Linked DNA regions of Homo sapiens. The protein of the gene in region 2 purifies or fractionates together with the protein of the main gene of each other region. This does not show direct contact. Each region holds a gene or a part of one and is shown on either strand. Other genes may lie near its edges.

Evidence for each region.
Region 1: the proteins of GRTP1 (region 2) and ATP2A1 purify together in Homo sapiens (affinity purification with mass spectrometry; one large-scale study listed by BioGRID and IntAct). This does not show direct contact.

What each region holds. Positions count from the first base shown.
Region 1 is NC_000016.10:28,891,988-28,895,487, reverse strand, and holds part of ATP2A1 (sarcoplasmic/endoplasmic reticulum calcium ATPase 1), read right to left. Parts: intron 1,334-3,500; coding exon 1,245-1,333; intron 984-1,244; coding exon 881-983; intron 667-880; coding exon 535-666; intron 1-534. UniProt on the Homo sapiens protein: Key regulator of striated muscle performance by acting as the major Ca(2+) ATPase responsible for the reuptake of cytosolic Ca(2+) into the sarcoplasmic reticulum.
Region 2 is NC_000013.11:113,350,631-113,354,130, reverse strand, and holds part of GRTP1 (growth hormone-regulated TBC protein 1), read left to right. Parts: intron 1-2,160; exon of another isoform or gene 2,161-2,458; intron 2,459-3,157; coding exon 3,158-3,282; intron 3,283-3,500. UniProt on the Homo sapiens protein: May act as a GTPase-activating protein for Rab family protein(s).

The DNA of each region.
Region 1 (3,500 bases), on a different chromosome or scaffold from region 2:
GAGAGAAAGAGAGAAATGTGGGGAATATAATTCCCCAGAGAGAAGTGCTTAATGGAGACGTTCAGCAAGTATCAATAGCAATAACTGGGAGTGACAGTCCTAGAAGTGGCCGGGTTCATCTGGGCAAGGAAAGGCTTTCCCTATAGGTGCAGTAGCCACATTTCCCAAATCCTAAGTCAGGACTCATCATCTGCTGAAAACAAGTGTGCTTCTAGAAACAAAGGAATAACAGATGAAGTTGGGGCTGCTCCTGGATGGGTCCCTTGTGGTTTCCGTGTCCAGCTTTGTCCACTTCAAATCAGGACACAGCGGGCAGAAGTGATCATAGATTCATCAAGGGCATGGCCGCCAGGCAGCCCCAGGGACAATGGGTCCCACCCACATCAGCCTGTGGAGAAGCTGCAGGGGCTGTCTGCTGCCTGGGTGGGGTCCCAGCACAGGCACTAGGCTCTGCCCAACCAGGGCCTCTGCCTTCCTCTAGTCTATGCAGCATAGAGTGGAGACGGCCCTGTGGCAGGGGCTCCGCAGGCTCACCGAGTTGCAGGCGTTGGCTCTCTCCACCTTCGAGAGGCTTCTCACATCCGTGTTGAACACATTCATCTTCTCCACCAGGGTGGTGAGTGCTGTCTCGGTGGCCTCGCCGACCTTCTCATAGACACCTTTGGCCTGAGATGGGCAGAGGAGGAAGAGGAAGTCGGTGCCCCAGGCTCCTACCTGTCATACCCTCCTTCCACCTAGCGTAAGAAGGAAGCAAACCACTGCCTCCCTTGCACCCTGGCAGAGGGCTGGGTGTACTGGGTCCCCTTCCTCCAACCCTTTCCTCCTGGCCTTCGGAGGAGGCCCAGACTCTGAGCCAACTGGAAGGGGAAGGAGAGGTTACCTCGTTGAAGTCCAAGGAGGAGTCATTGCAGAGGGCACAGATGGTGGCCAGCTCCACCAGCCCGTCATACTGCCCTGGCCGGACTGGCTTATCATTCTTCAAGCTGGCAGCAGGGTCAGGGGAGGAAGGGACAGAGACAGTGGAGAAGAACAGGGAATGAGATGCAGAGAGGGCACAGGAAGAGCAGGCAGCAGAGGGTAAGGAAGGACAGTGGGGAGAGCCAACTCGGATATCAGGAGAGAGAACAAGGTCGGGGAGGAAGAGGAGAGTGAAAGGAGAGCAAAACCACATGGAGGGCCCCAGGGAGAAAGGGGGTGTGGGAAGGGGCGTGAGGAGCTGGGGAGAAGATGCCTGGGTGACTTACACCTCTCCCTCTGGAGCGTAAGTGGAGCCGGTGATGGAGAACTCATTCAGGAGGCAGATGTCCCCATCCACCTTGTCAATGATAAACATCTGCAGGGGAGAAGGGCAGGCACACAGATGTCCACCTCTTCCCATCCCAAGGTGGGCACCTGCATCAAGGGAGGCCTGCACTGCCAACACCTACCTTCCCACCATTTCCCTCCTACTCACCCCTCCTCATCCCCCCCGTATACCCTACCCACTTCCCACCAAGCTGTTGCAATCATTCTCTATCAACAGCCTTAAAACAATAGTTACTGAGGCTGGGCGAGGTGGCTCACACCTGTAATCCCAGCACTTTAGGAGGCTGAGGTGGGCGGATCACCTGTCAGGAGTGCAAGACCATCCTGGCCAACATGATGAAACCGTCTCTACTAAAAATACAAAAATTAGCCAGGTGTGGTGGTGCGCGCCTGTAATCCCAGCTACTCTGGAGGCTGAGGCAGGAGAATCGCTTGAACCTGGGAGGCAGAGGTTTCAGTGAGCCAGGATCGTGCCATTACACTCCAGCCTGGGCGACAAGAGCCAAACTCAAAAAAAAAAAAAAAAACAAAAAAAAACCCACAAACGAGTGACCGCAGGCTGTGCTGTGCTGGAGCTTCTGTAGACCAGTTAATAAAATAAGATGGAACACAATAAGGTATGGTGGGGACTGTGGCAAACAGCCCAACTATTGGCACCTGGACCATCTACAGCTCCAGCTGCATGTGGCCAGATCTTCCAGTTTTGCAGGAAGAGCTAGAAATTCAGGTTATCTTCCTATGAAATCTCTTGACTTTTTCTTTTTCTTTTTGTTTTTTAAGATAGGTTCTTGCTCTGTTGCCCAGGCTGGAGTACAGTGGTGTGATCATAGCTCATTGCAGCCTCAACCTCCCGGGCTCAAGTGATCCTCCCACCTCAGCCTACCCAAGTAGTTGGGGCCACAGGCACATGCCACCATGCCTGTCTCTCTTGCTCTCTCTCTCTCTCTTTTTTTTTTTTTTTGGTAGAAATTGGGTCTCACTATGTTGCCCAGGCTGGTTTTGAACTCCTGGGCTCAAGTGATCTTCCTGCCTTGGCCTCCCAAAGTGCTGGGAGTACAGGCACCCACCATGATGCTGGGAGTACAGGCAACTACCATGCCCAGCCTCTTGACTTTCAAATATATGGGCAATTCTTTTTTTTTTTTTTGGAGATGCAGTTTCACTCTTGTTGCCCAGGCTGGTGCAATCTCGGCTAACTGCAACCTCCGCCTCCTGGGTTCAAGTGATTCTCCTGCCTCAGCCTCCAGAGTAGCTGGGAGTACAGGCATACGCCACCACGCCCAGCTAATTTTGTATTTTTAGTAGAGACGGAATTTCGCCATGTTGGCCAGGCTGGTCCCGAACTCCTGACCTCAGGTGATCCACTCACCTTGGCCTCCCAAAGTGCTGGGATTACAGGCGTGAGAATTAATTCATTTTTATGAAACATGACAGGAGCCAAGTCACACGAGCCTGTGGTCTGGCTTTGTGGCCTGTGCGTTAGAGGGATGTGGAGAACGCAGTGCCCAGGAGGAGTGGCCTACCCTGAATCCTGGGCAAACGCAACAGAGACTGGGCTTTTCATTCCCGAGAAGAGAGATGGTTAAGATGGGTTCCAAGACAAAAAAGTTCTGTGGTCAGAAAAAAAACTTGGGAACCTCTGGGGCAAAGCAGAATCCGTCTTCTTTACACAGTCAGCCTCCTCTAAGGCTTTCAAATAGCAGCAGATGTTGTGGGTCTCGCCCAGGAGCCAAGGTTACAGCCTTTCTCACCCTGATCTGACCACACAGCCCTTGCTTCTCAGAACAGCAATTTCTAGTTCATGGGTGTAGTCTTCCACAAAACTCTGTGAAGGGCAGGGGTTCTTGGCCTGAGGTCAGTGGAAGACCCTGCAAGGAGCCCAAGAACTGAGATAGCCAAGAAAAAAACGACAGCTTTTCTTGTTCTCAAGCTGACGTTTGACATTTCCTTCCAGTTATGCATGTTGTCAACAGACCACATTAGTATTAGCAAAACCTGTGACTGTCACCAATTTAATCACAGATACTTTCCTCCTATCACATTACCACTGTTGCAGATCTCTCAAAATAGCATAATTTATGCTCACCACTGCTTCAACATTATGATAGTGCTTAGACCCACTGCGAGAACTCCCTAATTAATGCCTTAATAAAGAAGCATGTGTGTTGCCAAATTACAAAGTTGTTTTTAAAAAT
Region 2 (3,500 bases):
AAAATGCATTTAAAGTCTCTGTTTTGTGGTTTTTTGGATGAATTTTTTTATTTTTTATGACAGGTGTCAGTCTGTTACCCAGACTGGAGTGTAGTGGTGCGGTCACAGTGACAGCTCACTTCAGCCGTGACCTACCAGGCTCAAGCGATCCTCCTGCCTCAGCCTCCTGCGTAGCTGGAAGTGGTCTGAACCACAGGTGTGCACCACCACACCTGGCTCATTTTTTAATTTTTATTTTTTTGCAGAGATGGGGTTTTGGTCTTGAACTCCCGGGCTCTGAGGATTCGCCCTCCTTCACCTCCCAAAGTGCTAGGGTTACAGGAGTGAGCCACCCACCTGGCTGAATTGTTTTTTAAATTATGGTAAAATATGCCTAATATAAAATTTACCATTTCATTTTCCCAAGCTGAAGCTCTTGGGAGCTTCCCCATTGTTAAGCACTGAACCCCATGTCCTCACCCAGCCCCTGGCAATCCCGCTGTGCGCTTGTCTCTGTGCCATCCCCATTGTCAAGCACCGACCCCCGTGTCCTTGCCCAGCCCCTGGCAGTCCCACTGTACGCTTGTCTCCGTGCTTTGGCAACTCCAGGGTCACATAAGAGGAGTCCCGTGGGCTGCGTCCTCTGCAGCTGGGGTCCTTTCCCTCGCCTCAGTCCTCAGGGATCCTCTGTACTGCATCTTGTGTGACAATTTCCTCCTTCTTTAAGGGTGAATAATATTCCACGCATGGGCAGACTACATTTTGTTCATTTATCCATCTATCAGTGGACCCCTGGGCTCTCCTGCCGCACGGCTGTTATGGGTGGCATGGCCGTGAGCCTGGGTATGTGGATTCTGCTGGGTCCCTGCTTTCAGCTGTGGGTTCCTACCCAGAGTGTGGATTCTGCTGGGTCCCTGCTTTCAGCTGTGGGTTCCTACCCAGAGTGTGGGGCTGGGCCCCTGCTTTCAGCTGTGGGTTCCTACCCAGAGTGTGGGGCTGGGTCCCTGCTTTCAGCTGTGGGTTCCTACCCAGAGTGTGGGGCTGGGTCCCTGCTTTCAGCTGTGGGTTCCTACCCAGAGTGTGGGGCTGGGTCCCTGCTTTCAGCTGTGGGTTCCTACCCAGAGTGTGGGGCTGGGTCCCTGCTTTCAGCTGTGGGCTCCTACCTAGAGTGGACTCTGCTGGGTCCCTGCTTTCAGCTGTGGGCTCCTACCCAGAGTGTGGATTCTACTGGGTCCCTGCTTTCAGCTGTGGGCTCCTACCTAGAGTGTGGGGCTGCTGGATCCATGACAGTTCTGTGCTTAGTAATTGGAGCCACCTGGTCAGTTATCTTTCAGGAGCCATGCAGTGGATGGTCCAGTCCCACAGAGCCAATGCCAGGCCACGCAGTGCAGACAGAAAGCTCCCATGCTCTTCTGTCTCCACAATGGAGATGGAGCCATCTCCTTTCCCACAGGATGTTATCAAAACATATCAAGAAACTTAGTGTGGTGGCTCACGCCTGTAATCCCAGCACTTCGGGAAGCTGAGGCAGGCGGATTAGTTGAGCTCAGGAGTTCAAGACCAGCCTGGCCACCATGGCAAAACTCTGTCTTTACAAAACAATACGTAAATTAGCCCAGGCATGGTGGTGTGTGCCTGTAGTCTCAGCTACTCAGGAAGCTGAGGTGGGAGGATCGCTTGAGCCCTGGAGGTCGAGGATGCAGTGAGCCGTGATTGCACCTCTGCACTCCAGCCTGGGTGACAGAGTGAGACCCTGTGTTAAATATATATATAAATATATATATATATATAAAATATATATAAATATATATATAAAATATATATAAAAATATATATAAAATATATATAAAATATATATAAATATATATAAATATATATAAAAATATAAAAATATATAAATATATATAAATATATATATAAATATAGAAAACTCAATAAAAATATTACATATAAATGAACACAGCTGGTCACTCTAGTCTGAAATAGCAAAAATACTAACTTCCCCTTGACTGATTCCATTTTTTGGAATGTTTAGAATTCCAGAAAAAAAAAAAGGCTCTTTTGTAAGAAAACACACAATGAGAAATAATGTGCTCTGAGGCATTGAACTAATGTTGGCCCAAATCTAGTTTTTTGTAAGCAAAGATAAGGCCTGGGGCCAGAGGTCGGAAACAGACTTACAGTATTTTGCAGCCGTTGTGGAGAGACCACAGGCGGTTGGGTTCCTCCAGAGCTGGGTGTACACCCATCTCAGCGTCATGGCTGGCGGGGACTGCTGTGAGTCCATCTTGGAACTTGTGCAGAAAGCGGCTGTCTGCTGGTGACCGCATGGGGTGCCTGGCGAACACCTCTAACAGAGGTAGGGCCAGTGGGAGCAGAAACCAGTGGAGTTGTCAAGCCGGCATTATCCTTCCTGCTCGGCTTGTGTCCAGGGTTAACGCGGAGGTCAGCTTCAGTGAGGCCTGGCACTTGGTCAGCGTGAGGCTTGGTTAGTCTCAGGGACCCACGTGGTATCCGGGTCCCCCAGCACTAAACAGCTTGGCCAAGGCCACACTGTCCTGCCAAGAGATGCCTGGGCGGGACAGTGGGAGGGGTTGGTGCTGAGGAAGGAAGAGGCCGGCAGGGATGCCTCCTGCACACACAAGCTGACAACTCGAGGTTTATTCAGTTCTCAGCTCTCAGCTCTCAGCCGTGTCCTTTATCTCTGAGGAGTCTCAATTTATTCTGTCTCCTTCTGTTTTGGATCTTTGAAATTAGGAAAACACCTCAAAGTTTTGTGTGCATTTCTCTCCACCTGTCACCCTGGGTCCTCGAGGCAGAGTTGCCTCCGCTACGCGCGAGGTCCGAGGTGCAGGAGGCCTGTGCTGGGGGCCGGGAGGAGACGGGCATTGAGGAGGGAGTGCCATGGCCTGGCCACCAGCTCTGGGGTCGCTCTGCTGTCCCTGACTCTGCGGGAAGGACGGTTAGGGCCCCTCTCCGCCCCGAGTTCAGGATCACCCCCTCCTTCCTGGCCCAGTGAGCCTGTCGCTCTGGCTGTGTTGAGTCTGCTGTGCGGCCAGGGTGAAAACCAGTCCGTAAGTCCCAAGTGGAACCCAGGTGGCCACCCTCGGGGCAGCTGGAGGGGTGGGAGGCTTGTGGAACAGAAACCCGTGGGTGATTCCTTCTGAATTTCCCACAGACCTGAACCGGACCTTCCCCGACAACGTGAAGTTCCGGAAGACCACGGACCCCTGCTTACAGAGGACCCTGTACAATGTGCTGCTGGCATATGGGCACCATAACCAGGGAGTGGGCTACTGCCAGGTGAGCCTCGGGACCCTCTGACGCCATGAGGTGGCTGTGAGGACAGGTCTGTCCACAGCTGCAGGCTCGGCAGTGACGGCCTCACGTCTCTGTCAACCCTGTTCATGAATTCCACGTCCTGATGCCCCATTGAGGCTCGGACGCCATTTCCCAGCAGGGAGGACAGGGAGCAGCAGCCGACGACCTCATTCCGGCCTCAGGTGGCGGGAGGAGAATCA